2 linked regions of the Homo sapiens genome follow. The protein of the gene in region 1 interacts with the protein of each later gene in a biochemical or structural test. Each region holds a gene or a part of one and is shown on either strand. Other genes may lie near its edges.

Evidence for each region. The genes of interacting proteins can lie anywhere in the genome.
Region 2: the proteins of NR2E1 (region 1) and RERE form a complex in vitro, tested with the Homo sapiens proteins (one study listed by BioGRID).

The regions. Positions count from the first base shown.
Region 1 is NC_000006.12:108,175,705-108,183,155, forward strand, and holds part of NR2E1 (nuclear receptor subfamily 2 group E member 1), read left to right. Parts: intron 1-798; coding exon 799-1,034; intron 1,035-2,390; coding exon 2,391-2,537; intron 2,538-4,618; coding exon 4,619-4,715; intron 4,716-5,102; coding exon 5,103-5,252; intron 5,253-5,841; coding exon 5,842-5,947; intron 5,948-7,451. UniProt on the Homo sapiens protein: Orphan receptor that binds DNA as a monomer to hormone response elements (HRE) containing an extended core motif half-site sequence 5'-AAGGTCA-3' in which the 5' flanking nucleotides participate in determining receptor specificity.
Region 2 is NC_000001.11:8,814,349-8,821,987, forward strand, and holds the start of RERE (arginine-glutamic acid dipeptide repeats protein), read right to left. Parts: upstream 3,293-7,639; 5' UTR 2,812-3,292; intron 1-2,811. UniProt on the Homo sapiens protein: Plays a role as a transcriptional repressor during development. May play a role in the control of cell survival. Overexpression of RERE recruits BAX to the nucleus particularly to POD and triggers caspase-3 activation, leading to cell death.

The sequences.
Region 1 (7,451 bases):
ACAGGGTGCGAGTGGGTTTTGCTGTGAGGCGGCCCGGGCCGGGTGGCAGCTCCAGGAGGAGAGAGAGCCCCTTCCTCTGCGGCGCAGGAAGCCGGAGGGAGCGTCCAACCTGTTGAACTTGTGTATTGACAAGTTGTCAAGCTCGGCAGGCCGAAGATTGCCCTGAATTAATTTGTTTGTTTAAACTGTTGGTGGTAATTGTCACATCTCCCCTGCCTTTCTCCAGCATACTCGGAGACGGGTTCTCCCTCGTTCCATTCCCTAGCAATCCCGGGGCTCGGGTCCTTTCCTCCTGCGGCCCTCGGAGGCCAAAAGCTATTTCTGTGGGGGCGGGGCCTGCGGGTAGGGAGGCTTGTTCTTGGACGGAGCTGGAAAAGTCTGCGCAGAAACGAGGTGTCTGGCGTGCGCGACGCTCCCTCTCTTTTGGATGGGGGCGAGGATACCTGGCTACTCCAGCCCAGAGGGTCTCTGGTTTCCCTGCGAACCCCCTTCCCTGGTGGGGAGGAGCCCTGGACCGAAGGAGAACACACCTGGTCTTACTTGAGGCTCTGCCATTATCGTGGCACTTTGAGCACGGGCCCCTCTTCTAAGCCTCAGCTTCCGAATCTATTCAGTGTAGTGGTTAGACGATCTCAGAATCCCTTCCTCCCTCAGATTCCCTCTCCCTTCTTCTTTTCACCTCTTGGGCGATTTTGCCCGCCCAGACTTGACATTGGGGCGGGGCTGGGGGGAGAGCCGCAGCGGCTGTGTCTCGACGTCTCTAATCGCCGGCATGCGTTTCTCTGTTTGCCTCTGCAGCCGTGCAGCACGAGCGGGGGCCTCGGACGTCCACCATCCGCAAGCAAGTGGCCCTCTACTTCCGTGGACACAAGGAGGAGAACGGGGCCGCCGCGCACTTTCCCTCGGCGGCGCTCCCTGCGCCGGCCTTCTTCACCGCGGTCACGCAGCTGGAGCCGCACGGCCTGGAGCTGGCCGCGGTGTCCACCACTCCAGAGCGGCAGACCCTCGTGAGCCTGGCTCAGCCCACGCCCAAGGTCAGCGGCCTTGCTGGGCCCAAAGAGACTCGTGCCAGCGAATGGAGAGGGACGCACCCAGTTCTTCTGAGCTGTGTGATTGGGGTCAGGCAAACTGGGGAGAGAACTCCAGGGTGCTTGGCGGGTCTCTGCATGGAGCTCCAGCCCTTCTGCTCTCCCTTGTTCAGCCAGGGGTGCTCAAACTTGAGTGTACAGTAGAGTCAACCTCCGAGTGGCTACAAGTGTGCACTCCGGATCTTATCCCCCCAGAAATTTCATTTCAGCAAGTTTGGGGTGGAGGCCAGGAACCTGCACCTTTAGGAAACACCCACTGGTAATGGGTGGTGGGTGGAGACCTCGTCTAAACCCAGAGGGCAGCCTCAGGTGTTCCTAAAGACCAGAAGAACCAACGTTCATTTTTAGAGGAGAGGAATTGGCTACAGCTGGAGGAAGGGCTCCAGAATTCCAAATCTTGGCATGTATGATCTTGGGCAAAGCCATGAGTTTCTAACGCAAGTGCGAAATGTGGAGATCACACTGTTAGAACAGTTTGAGGAATCTGAGTTCATTTCCCATGCTCCCCTCACCTACTTCTGAGGCAGGTGGATTTACAGCAGGGTTGATTCCATAGGAGCAGGGCCACAGCCTGAACCACCTGGAAAGGCTGCCACCTAAGGCCTACCCTCCAGGCCTACAGCTGATACCTACTAACACCCCCACTCCAGGCTGATGAGGGCCTAGGATCTCCCTCAGAGGAGGGCCAGCTGCAGCCCCACACTGCAGGGAAGCCAGACACCTGGGCACATGCACACGCACAATATTTAATATGGCTTTCTTACCCTTGATGTGTATAATAAGCTCTGGAAAGTAGTGTTATGAATATGTTGTCAGTTATGAATGGGAATGCTCTGTGAATGATTAAGATGTCTAATTGAAATATTTCCATAATATACTAATCCTTTCTAAAAATACTCATATGCATATTTGTGTTTGGGATGCCTATTAATTTATACTTTTTCACATCTATTTTTATTTACACAAATGCAAGCAGCTCTTGTCTAAATTGGGAGCCAGGCTTGGCACTTGGCTCAGCCCAAGGAAAATTTGCTGCAGGGGATAGAAAAGCCAGAGGGCCTTCTGGAAGGGAGAGGCTCCCAAAGAGTGGAAATGGACCTCCCCCAACCAGTATTACTTTTCAAACTCTATAGACAGCGATGTTTGATTTTTTTACCCACCAATGTCAACTGCATGTTTAAACAAAACATCCAAATTCTTTTTTATCCCCTTCCTTGCTTTAATTAGAAATTAAAAGTTTGGTTCTTCTTGCAAAGCTGTGGTTTCCTCACTTCCAGGTGTCTTTCTTTCTTCCCTACCCAGTACCCCCATGAAGTGAATGGGACCCCAATGTATCTCTATGAAGTGGCCACGGAGTCGGTGTGTGAATCAGCTGCCAGACTTCTCTTCATGAGCATCAAGTGGGCTAAGAGTGTGCCAGCCTTCTCCACGCTGTCTTTGCAAGACCAGGTATGACCACACTGAGGCCTTGGGAGAAAGAGAGCTGGGAAAGAAGCAGTAGCACTCAGCCTTATAAAACTTCCTCTATCCCTGGGTAAACCACCCAAGGCAGGCATCCATTCTTAATAGCAGTGAGGAAACTACTTGTTTTTACTTGCTTCTTCCTGTGGGTTCAAAATATCTACCTATATGATCCTTAGTAAGAAACGTAATTACATTATTTCAGAAAGGATGGGTCCAGTCTGTGAAAACACACATACAAGAACATTACCTCTTTTTGTTTGATTGGAACAGCAAATATAATCTCAAATTTTAAAATTGTAATGATTTTCTAAAACTGTTGATGAAACAATGTTTTACTAAGAACATTGGAACTGAGAGAAGTAGAAGGTGGTAAGAGTATGCCCTCATGAGATTTTTCAGAACTGATGTTATTATTTTATATTCCCAGCTTTATATTCTCCATTGCGATGCTCCCAGTTTTGGTCATTAATTGATAAGCATGTAAAACCAAAGGGCACAGTGCACACCTCCTGTAGGCTAGGTTCTTCCTTGATTCTTCATGTACTTTTAGACATTTTGTAAACAAATAGGCATTTTGCTTAATTCCGTGGTTGTAAATGACATTCAGGGGAAGAAAAAGTGTGTGCAGTGAAACATTGTATTGTACTGAGACCCAGAAATTTTGTTGATAGGAATATTAGAAATGCTAACATTTTTCTAACCTTAAAGGAAAGAAAGAAAATAAAGTGTTCCCAACCATTGGCTGTTACCAGTGCATTCACAGGAATTAATGACAAATTTTCCAAAGGCTAATAAGTAGTTCTAAAAGCAAAGGATTTATTTCTTCAATTCATTTCATACCTAATTAAAGCATAATAGTGCCCCTTTATATGAAGTATGTTTCCTACGGAAAGATCGGGCAATGTGCTAAAAGCATTTCATTTTCTAGCATGAGATGTTCTTGTTTTCATGGCCTGCCCTTTCAAATATGGCCAGAATTAAATATTGTTTACCTTGCATTTTATAATTATTTCCTGTACTTGATGGAATAAAACTAAAAATAAAACATTAAAAAAATTAAACCCTTTGGTCTAATTGTGATTTTGGTTACAAGCCTTCATGATTCAGCTCTTAGCTCCCAAAAGAAATCCTTTTACATAAATCATTTAGAGTTGACTGGCTTTTGAGTTTTGAGATTTTTAAAGGTAGTTAGGTCCTATCTTTGACCAGGTTTACTGGTTAGCTCTAACCACTTCCTGTGTGTGTGTGTGTGTGTGTGTGTGTGTGTGTGTGTGTGTAGACTGGCTATTTTTTTTCAAAATAAGTATTTGTATACTCTCACCCAAACAAAATTTACTTACTGTCTGCCACTTAGCCCTTTGGTAGAAATCCTTCGACAACAAGCAACCTGCAGTGAAGTGGAATCTGGTATATTAATTTGGAAAAAGAGACAGATTTTCATTTTAAATATTCAGTAGCACATTTTATTAGAATAAAAATGACAAGCACCTTGATGCTGTCCATTTATGGGTCTCAGAAAAATCAAGCAGTGAGACGAGGAAAACTCAGCAAAACCCGATTAACATAATTACACCCTGATTTCCCCCAGTGCCTCTTGGGAATTAGTGATCTCTGTCTCTCTCCCAGCCCAGCCCCCTCAACCCTCCAGGAAGATGGGGACCCAGCTCTGCAAGCGTCTGAGGAATCCTCAACCCTGCTAATAGCAGCATTCTCTGTGAGGGGAATCCACCTGCTGAGCTGCTGGCATTTCATAAAGCCTCGCTCTCTAGAGGAGCTTCTAGGTGGTCAGGAATGGGTGGATACAAGGACAAGAGGGGCAAATCCTTTTCTGAGAGAAGGAAACTTTGGAGAATTGGAATGGCTGACTCTCAAATCCATATGCATATCTATAGGCACCTTTTCAAAAGGAAAATATGGGAAAATAAGGGAAAGCTAGAATATTCAGAAAAAATTACCAAGACAGGCATTTAAAACACTTTTTAAAATAATGGAAATTTACATAGTGAAATTGTTTATAAATTTATAAATTACACACTATATTATATTATACATCTATTGTATGACAGCTGATGCTTTTGGAAGATGCTTGGAGAGAACTGTTTGTTCTAGGAATAGCACAATGGGCCATTCCGGTTGATGCTAACACTCTACTGGCTGTATCTGGTAAGAATTGCACAATTTAATGACTTTGTTGTAGAAATTACCATAAAAATACATTACTGAAAAAAGAACAACATGTAAAGAATAACAAATTCCTGCTGAACAATAGAGTATACCTGTCATTTATAAATCTATATTTAAATGCAAATAATGTTGTTTTGTTGTATTCATGACTGCTTGCATTGTTATTTAAATGCAAATTACTGTGTTTGTTATCATCCAAGAGAAGATTTTATATTAACTTTCATACAATATAGCCGGTTTACATGGAATCAGATATCTTAGAGTGACAATTGAATAGATATTGATATGCAGGATTTTGTCAAAAATCAATATTAAATCATGAAAATGCCTTCATATTAGAGTATTTATCCCATATTTTTATTCTAGGCATGAACGGTGACAACACAGATTCCCAGAAGCTGAACAAGATCATATCTGAAATACAGGCTTTACAAGAGGTGGTGGCTCGATTTAGACAACTCCGGTTAGATGCTACTGAATTTGCCTGTCTAAAATGCATCGTCACTTTCAAAGCCGGTAAGCAGACACAGACCCCTGTTTCTTCTCCTTCCCCAGTTTTGCCACCTCACTAATTCAGCCACCTCGAAGTCTGAACTGACCTTTGCAAAAAGAGGTGATGGTTTTCAAGGGAGCTGATACTCTTAATCTGGCCCCATTTTTTATTGCTATGGGAACCTGCATGTTCTGCTGGGCATCAACTTCCAGAGAGGTGCATTCCCAGACCCAATTTCTTTTTTTCTTTCTTTTTTTTTATTTTTTAAATTTTTGTGGAGATGGTGTCTTGCTCTTGTCACCCAGGCTGGAGTCCAATGGCACCATCTCAGCTCACTGCAACCTCTGCCTCCTGGGTTTAAGCAATTCTCCTGCCTCAGCCTCCCAAGTAGCTGGGATTACAGACACATGCCACCATGCCTGGCTAATTTTTGTATTTTTAGTAGAAACAGGGTTTCACCATGTTGGCCAGGTTGGTCTCGAACTGCTGACCTCAAGTGATCCGCCTGCCTCGGCCTCCCAAAGTGCTGGGATTACAGGCGTGAGCACTGCGCTCGGCTCCCAGATGCAATTTCTATGCTGTCTATCACAGTTTCCTGGTCTTCATTTCTAGTTCCTACACATAGTGGTTCTGAACTGAGAAGTTTCCGGAATGCTGCCGCCATTGCAGCCCTTCAAGATGAGGCTCAGCTAACGCTCAACAGCTACATCCATACCAGGTGACCCTTGTTTGCCTTGAACATGTACTTAAGAAAATTGCCTCCATTGTGAATGCCTGAGCAGGCGGTAATAAGCCAGTTCAAACATTGTGACTAATTATCTTGTTGCCAGCCAGTTAATTTAGGGAGAATCCATGTCCTTACCTATCTCTCAGGGTGGGTGAGAGGAGCAAATCTAATTAGATGATCAAAGTGAAAGCACTGCCAGACATATTACAGTTGTCCTGGCGGAACAAATTGATCCATCAAAATAATGGAACAACATTTGTGTGAATGGGTATGGAGGGGTCAAAAATGAAGCCTAGGCTGGGCACAGTGGCTCACGCCTGTAATCCCAGCACTTTGGGAGGCCGAGGTGGGTGGATCACGAGGTCAGAAGATCGAGACCATCCTGGCTAACACAGTGAAACCCCGTCTCTACTAAATAATACAAAAAAATTAGCTGGGTGTGGTGGTGGGCACCTGTAGTCCCAGCAGCTACTCGGAAGGCTGAGGCAGGAGAATGTCGTGAACCTGGGAGGTGGAACTTGCAGTGAGCCGATATTGTGCCACTGCACTCCAGCCTGGGCGACAGAGCGAGACTCCGTCTCAAAAAAAAAAAAAAAAAAAAAGAAGCTCAAAGTGTAATGGTTGGTATGTGAGAGAGTGGCCACATCATCCTTGAGAAAACACAGGTGACTTTCTTCAGATGCCAATCTCAAATAAAAGGATGAGAGAACTTTCCAGAGAGGCTATCTTTTTTTTTGAGACAGGGTCTTGCTCTGTTGCCCAGGCTGGAAGGCTGAAGTGCAGTGGCATGTGAGCATGGCTCACTGCAGCCTTGAACTCATGGGCTCATGTGATCCTCCCACCTCAGCCTATTGAGTAGCTGAGACTATAGGTGCATGCCACCACACCCAGCTAATTTTTTTTTTTTTTTTTTTTTGAGACAGAGTTTCACTCTTTCACCCAGGCTGGAGTGTAGCGGTGCAATCTCGGCTCACTGCAACCTTCGCCTTCCGGGTTCAAGTGATTCTCCTGCCTCAGCCTCCCAAGTAGCTGGGATTACAGGTGCCTGCCACCACGCCCAGCTAATTTTTGTATTTTCAGTAGAGACGGGGTTTCACCGTGTTGGCCAGGCAGGTCTCGAACTCCTGAACTTGTGATCTGCCTGCCTTGACCTCCCAAAGTGCTGGGATTACAGGTGTGAGCCACCATGCCCGGCACACCCAGCTAATTTTTAAACTTTTTATAGAGACAAGGTCTTGCTATGTTGCCCAGGCTGGTCTCGAACTCCTGGCCTCAAGTGATCCTCCCACCTAAGTCTCCCAAAGTGCTGGGATTACAGGCCTGGGCCACTGTGCCCAGCCTAAAGAAGCCATCTTTTCACCTATCATAACTGTTGTTTGGCCTTGGTGACTGGTATCTGTTATTTTGTGTCATAACATCTACCAGGTTACTTCTGGCCATGCAGGGCCCACAGGCAGAGGCTGTTTTTGGCTGTTTGTAGGAACTCTCAGAGACT
Region 2 (7,639 bases), on another chromosome or scaffold:
ATTAAGCAGATTATCTCTGAAACTGCACCTTAGTTTACAAGCCTTTGGGCAACAATTTGACCCTCTTCTATGATAATTTGTGTACACACTCATTTCACATTTTCTCTGGCTTCCAATTTTAAATTCTTTATCTAATCCATACAATAAGTCACCCTATCAGACTTTATAAGACTACTGAAAACAACACTACTGCAATGCAAGGCCACTACATTTGCAAAATTGCCGATTTTAGTGAGATTTCCCTCCTTCAACTCCTCCTCTACCCCTCTACCTGGTTTAAATCCCAAGAAAAACCTCTGTCCAGTGCTACAATTTTACTTTCCATAGAGTAGGTTTATTTGATTTTTTATTAATGATACTAAAAACTTTTTTAAAAGACTGCTGGTGTATATAGTTTCCAATACTGGGAACAGAAATAAACCCTCTGGTTTAATATTTCAAGAGAAATTATCTCATAAAAGATGAGAAGGTATCATTCAAAGGAGTCCTGGGAAGTCACAAAGTGTAAATACTTCTGGTAACAGAACAAATTAATGTCGAAGCACAACCAGTAACATAATAATGCCTCAATGCAACCGTGCCTGTCAAAGGACATCTGTATTAGCAGCTCGGGGAAGTGGCATTTGCAGAAAGGCACAACAACTGCGCTTAAAAGAAAATCATTAAGCCTCAGCCATTAATCCCCTCCCCCATCCTCTTCGTCTGGATCTTTCCAAACAATTAACCAGTAGAAGGTGCTATTCTGCAACCCACATGTATTCACACCAACCTCCATCCTTGGGCCACAGCTGGGTTTATCCCAGGTGGACTAGCCTATTCCCTGTCCAGTATTCAAAGGAGCCCCCTAAACAGAAAACCAGATCTTTTCTTATAACCCTTATTTACAAAAACAACATTGACAGCTCAATTGCCAGCAAACCTGACCATCAAACCATCACACCACTAAAAACATGCAAACATCATCTTGCTAAATATTAACCTCAATACAACCTTTATAATATTAATCAATAAAATCTATTTCTATCTAGAAAGACTCTGCTCACATTCACTACTAAGACTCAAGTGAACAAATCACTGTCCCCAACAAAATCAGGGTCAATGAGAAATACAAAAGCAATGAGAGCTGAACGTAAGGCCACAACATATAAAGAGGGATTTTATCTTTACATATACAAAAAAGAAAGAGCAGCAGAAACCACGGCTGCAAAAGGAATAAAGGGAGGCAGAGAGAAGAGAAGTCTCTGAACATGTTTTTGAGTGTCCTTTAGTTTCCAATGCACTCTTCTGCCTCACAAGGTTGCAAAAACGGCCAGGCATGAGATGGGTGGAAGAAAGCTGTAACAGAAAAGCACCCTCCCTTCCCCCATCTTCTCTCTTCTCTCCCAAAAAGAGCTGTGTTTGTCTGTGCAAACCTAGTCCCAAATATGGGAGAGAGAGAATGAATGTGTGTATGGAAGAACAATGAGCCCTCAGCTTGGTATTGTGTGTGTGTGTATGTGTGTGTGTGTGTGTGTATATGTGTGTCTGTCTGCCTCTGCCTCTTTTCCCTTCGACCTCAACAACAACAGGGAGAGCTGGAAGCCAGCTTTCCACCCATCCCAGGCCATCAAAATCAAAACTGGTTGATAATTTACAGTAGTATTAACTCAGCAAGCAAATCCATGGAACAAAATATCAACCCAAAGATGATTTTATTATTGTACAGATCCAGCTTCTCTCCCCTCCCCCAACAGACTGAGACTAAAAAGACCAGTGTACACTAGACAAAAAGGTCTCTCTTTAAATGGAAAGCAATTATGAAAACTGTTTCAAATCTTAGATGCATCAATTCCTGCTATATTAAAATGTCTATTTTGTAATTCACCAAGTTCACCCTCTTACTAGTTATCTTTTTTTGCGTTTAAAAATTCGCTGTGAAGAAGGCTATTTCACGATTCATACAAAACTACTTTCTAAATGTACCTTAAAAAAGCAACAGATACTGAAACATTTAAAGCACCCAGTTTCTCAAGGACCCATTTTACTTAAATCAATGTTTGAAGTCTGTAATCCAGAAAAATTGTAAGCAAACCTTGGAAAAGAGACAGAGGAAAATGACAATTCAACAATGAATCATTCTGTTTTCCTTTCAACAACTTCTCAAGCAACCAGTTTCAAAGGAAGCCTGCAACACTTTTCCCCCCTCCTAGCAGACACACATACACACGTGTATGTAAAACTACGAATCTTTCCATCATCTTAAAAATTAGTAATAAATAGAAGCCACCCTCCTTCAGAGAGCAGAACTAAAACAGGATAGTAAGAATTCTATTCTGCTGCAAGTGACTTTGGGTTTCATAATTTTCTAATCACATACAGCTGAGAACTAGAGATTGGGAGCACAAAGAGGAAATCTTCCCCCAATGAGAAAATGATACTTTAATAATAAAGTCCTCCCCCCAGCACCCCGAAATCCACAAACATTCAAGAAATTTACAGTTTCAGTCCTTGACTTCCTTCCCTTCCAGTTTCAGCCAATAATGTAGTCACATGAAATAGTTTAACCTCAAACAAGTAGAACAAGAGCATGAATAAGAGGCCAAGAGAGAGCAGGGGTCAGAAGGCACGCAGGAACGGTCACCTGGCCCGGACAGGACCAAAGAAGTGCCCTGCCCTCGCCCGACTCCCCTCGACTTCGGCTTCGACCCCAGCCTTTTCTTCCTGCCTCCCCCCGGGCGAGTGACTGCTTTCACGGCCGACCCTCTCTGACCACCAGGACGAGGGGCCAAAAAAGAAAGCACACGACCCGGCGCGGGCAAGTTGGACACTTACCTTCCCCTAAAGCGCTACACCATCAATAGTGAGGTGTTCGCGGCCCAGCTCCGGGGAAAGTGGCGGGGATGGGGCGGGAGGCCGCGCGGAGGCTGCGGGGCCGCGGGGCGCAGGGCCGAGAGGGGCGGCCCGCGGGGAGGCGACGCGGAGGGGCTGAGGGGGCTTCCCTGCCGTGACCTTTCCTGCGACTTGAACCTAGGCTCCCTCCTCCTCGGTCGGGCAGATCTTTCAGAAGCAGGAGCCCAGGATCATGTCTGGTTTTGTTTTCCGAGGGCGAGGGGGCTCCCTGAGGATGATGGTGATTTTTTTTTTTTTTTAATCCTCAACTAGGAGAGAAAATGAGGCAGAGACAATGTGGGGAGCGAGAGAGGGGAAAAGGACGGGGGAGGAGGCGGGGACCGAGGCCCAGCGGGGCGAGCGTCTCGGGGTGTGCGGGAGGCTGAGGAGGCTCCGGAGCGCGGAGGGTTGCTCGCGAGCGTCTGTGGGAACAGCGGCACCTCCGCGATGGTGGCGGAGCCGCGGCGGAGCTGCTGCACCGACCCGCCGCCCACTCCCCGCTCGGGCCCGGCCCACCTCGCAGTATCGCGCCCCTCCATTGGTACAGCGCGGTGTGACGCGGCCGGGGGCCCGGCCAATGGGAGGCGGAGGAGGCGGGATCTCTTTTTCCTTTTTTTTTTTTTTTTTTTTTTTTTTTTAATCTTTTTAATAAAATGAGCAGAGAAGAAGGCGGAGAGAGGCCGAGCCTTGACAACGCCGCGGCCCGGGGCTCGAGGGCTCGCGCTGCAGGCGGCGGCCAGAGGCGGTGGGCTGGGCTCCCGCCGCGGGCGCGTCTTTGTGAGAGTGCGAGGCCGGCCCTCCTCCGCCGCCCGCCGCGCTCCAGTACCGCCCCCCGCGCCCCCCGGGCTGGGCCGGGCTGGCGGCGCGGGCAGGTCCCGGGTGGGGTGGGGGGAAGTCCGGTTGATCTTGCTGTTACCCGGGTCTTAATTGGCCTTTTCAGTCATTAGGACGCGGATCCATGTTGCTGCGGGCTACAGAGTGGGTGTAAACCATTCTCATATGGACTCTTTCGAAATTCTGATGAGCGGCTTGTAATATTTTTCAAATAGTGTACATGACAAAAGATGAATTACAGAAAGAAAAATAAAAGTGATAAGTCGCACTGCTTATTTGAAAAGAATAAAAAGTGTCATGAAGGCATAAAGGAGAGACTGTACAGGTACAGAAGGGATTTTAGAAAGAGCAGTGTACAACTCTATAAGGTACGTGTGAAAAAAAATCTAAAAAGAGGAAAAGACCAAACATCACCTCTTTTTCTTTGAAGAATGAAGTATTGTGTCCCACTTCCCGAAAGCCTGATAATCACAGGGTCTATCATGCTGTAAAGGGAGTAGGGGCAGGCCAAATGATCATATTCTAGTTCATATAATTTATGGGATTGAGGGGTTTGGAAATTTCAATTATGATTAGCAGTTTTTGAAATGCACATCATGTTTATTGAGTTCTTTCACAGAGCCTGGCACGAATCCAGGGTGAATCATCAACCTATTGTTGGTTTGTTAATATTCTGTAAATGCTTATTGGTGTCCTTATACCATACACTCTTCCCGAAGGAGTTAAGGTCCGTATAAAATAAGGGGTAGAAAACGTAGCACAAAATAATTCACTCATCTGTTTCAAAAGAAGTGATAATTTTCTCCTTGGAAAATCTATTCAGATTATAATTTCCACATTGAATTATTCATTTTTTTTTTTTTTCTGAGAGGGAGTTTCACTCTTGTTGCCCAGGCTGGAGTGCAATGGCGCGATCTCGGCTCACCGCCACCTCCGCCTCCTCAGTTCAAGCGATTCTCCTGCCTCAGCTTCCCGAGTAGCTGAGATTACAGGCATGCGCCACCACACCCAGCTAATTTTGTATTTTTAGTAGAGATGGGGTTTCTCCATGTTGGTCAGGCTGGTCTCGAACTCCTGACCTCAGGTGATCCGCCCGCCTCAGCCTCCCAAAGTGCTGGAATTACAGGCGTGAGCCACCGCACCCGGCCCACATTCAATTATTCTTTAAAGAATAATTTGGACTAACAGATACTATTGGACCATGACCCAAGAGATCTTAAAAAAAAAAAAAAAAGCCATAGATCCTTGCCATCACATTTCTGAGTAACTTTCAGCAAGAAAAATCCTCTTTGCTGGAGTTATGAAATGGGGAAACTAGTTAATATCTCTTTATATATCTGATAATGTGAGAACTGAATTTTAAAACCTAATAAATTCAATAAACTGCTTCCAACATTCTAGATATGGATAGGACTATCTGACTTCCTGTTTGGAAATGATGAGGGATAAAGTATATCAGTTAGATGGCTTCACTTTCCATCAAAATCTCTATCTACAGGAGCATTCTTTCTTTTTTTTCTTTTTTTTTTTTTTGAGACAGAGTCTCGCTCTGTTGCCCAGGCTGGAGTGCAGTGGCACGATCTCAGCTCACTGCAACCTCCACCTCCTCGGTTGAAGCGATTCTCCTGCCTCAGCCTCCTGAGTAGCTGAAATTACAGGTGTGTGCCGCCACACCCAACTAACTTTTGTAATTTTAGTAGAGATGGAGGTTCACTATGTTGCCCAGGCTGGTCTCGAAACTTACAGGAGCATTATTTCTAATAAAGATTCAGCTCTGTGGTAGACAAATGGACAATGCACTGCCATCCAGCAGGGAGGAGAGAGGCTCTCCACGTTAGGAAATAACATTTACTATGGTATTAGGGATTGGCCGTCACTTTCATTTATCCATAAAAATGTAAATTTAGAAGTCCAGAAATGCCACATAGTTACAAAGCATAATATATGGTATCAGACCACAAAATTAGCAAACTAAACCCATTTAACTGTAACAGTCCCACGAAAGAATTGTGGTCCAGCCATAAAGCCGGAGAGTACTGGACCTCCTTCCAAGGATCTGAGAAGCTGATAATGCAGTAAAATAATCTTCATCGTTAAGAACAACTATTAAACTATTGATTGAAAGCTTATGTTCCCAGTGCCCTAAGAAACATGTTACATTCTTTAGCCCACTTTTTCTCCCCATGAAGTGTATTATTATTATCTCTTTTTTTTTTTTTTTTTTTTTTTGAGACAGTTTCGATCTTGTTGCCCAGGCTGGAGTGCAATGGCGCGATCTCAGATCACCGCAACCTCTGACCCCCGGGTTTAAGCGATTTTCCTGCCTCAGCCTCCTGAGCAGCTGGGATTACAGGCATGTGCCACCATGCCCAGCTAATTTTGTATTTTTAGTAGAGACAGGGTTTTTCCATGTTGGTCAGGCTGGTCTCGAACTCCCAACCTCAGATGATCCGCCCGCCTCAGCCTCCCAAAATGCTGGGATTACAGGCGTGAGCCACTGCTCCCGGCTTATTATCTCCATTTTAAAAGTCAAGGAACTGGGGCTTACGGAAGTTAAAGAACTAGCTGAAGATTAAAGACGTAAAATACCGACTTGGATTTTTTTCCCATATTAAATTTTTAAAAGTTTCCTTATTCTCTTTTCAGCAATATTTTTAAGTGGGAATTAAGTAAATAAAGTAGTTATTGAATCTGAAAATATCAAGGACTTTTTTTAGTTATTTTATGTATCTTACTACAGGTAAGAAGTGATTTTTTTTTAAATATACAGAGATCACATCAGAGCTGTATTAAAGGAAGATGGAAAATGGGGATTATTTAATAAATGATATTGGGACAACAAGATAGCTATATGGGGAAACAAAAAACAACAACACACACCCACTAGATTCATATTACTCCTAACACACCCCACCCCCAAAATCACAGGTGGATTTCTTTATTTTTTTAATTGAAATTTTTTTTTTTTGGAGCCCAGGAATTTGAGACTACTCTGAGCAACATAATGAGACCCCCATCTCTACAAAAAAATTTTAAAAATTAGCTGAGTGTGATGGCACATGCCTGTAGTCCAGGCTATTTGGGAAGCTGAGGTGGGAGGATGGCTTCAGCCTGGGAGGTTGAGGCTGCAGTGAGCTGTGATCATGCCACTGCATTCCAACCTGGTGACAAGAGTGAGACCCTGTCTCAAAGGAAAAAAAAAAAGGAAGTTAGCCCTTGCTTATACGTGTTGAAAATGTTTCTCCCCAGTCTGCCTGTTTCTTGCATTGCTATGGTGTTTTTATGCCTTATAGGGATGTGAAATATTTATGCAGTAAAATTTATTGGTGTTTTTTCCTTTATGGCGTCTGGATTTCCTGCCATGTTAGAAAGAGCTTCTTCAATCCATGATTTGAAAAAGTTTTAGTGTTCTTCTAATACTTTTGATTTCATTTTTTAAAATCATAAAAATTTGGCATAGACAAAAGAATATACATTATGTGTACATAGGTTGAGGGGGATAATAATAAAATAAACACCAGTAAACTCAACCTAAGAAATTGTGGTTTAGTGGTTTCACTTTTTTAATCATTTATTTTAATTTTTTTTAGAGACAAGGACTTTTTTCTTTTCATATCAAGCATGGATAATTCTTATAATTAAAAAAAACCATTCAAGTTCTTTGAACATACAGCTGGTAACTAGTCTTCATAATTCACCAGCAGTACTCAAGCTTTAGAACATGTAAATTATTTTCCCCTAAAATGCCTTAAGCAGAACTAGGGTGCTTTAGCAGGCCTTGTAGCAGACTGAAGCTTGTTTCTAGGCATTTTCTATGAAATTGGCTTCCAAGTTTATGTAGTGCAAATATAAGCCAATAACGAGCCTCAGCTATATCTCCCGTTGCACTTTTTCAGGTTGAGCCTCCAGCAGCACTTCTTTCTTCCCCACTGCCAGT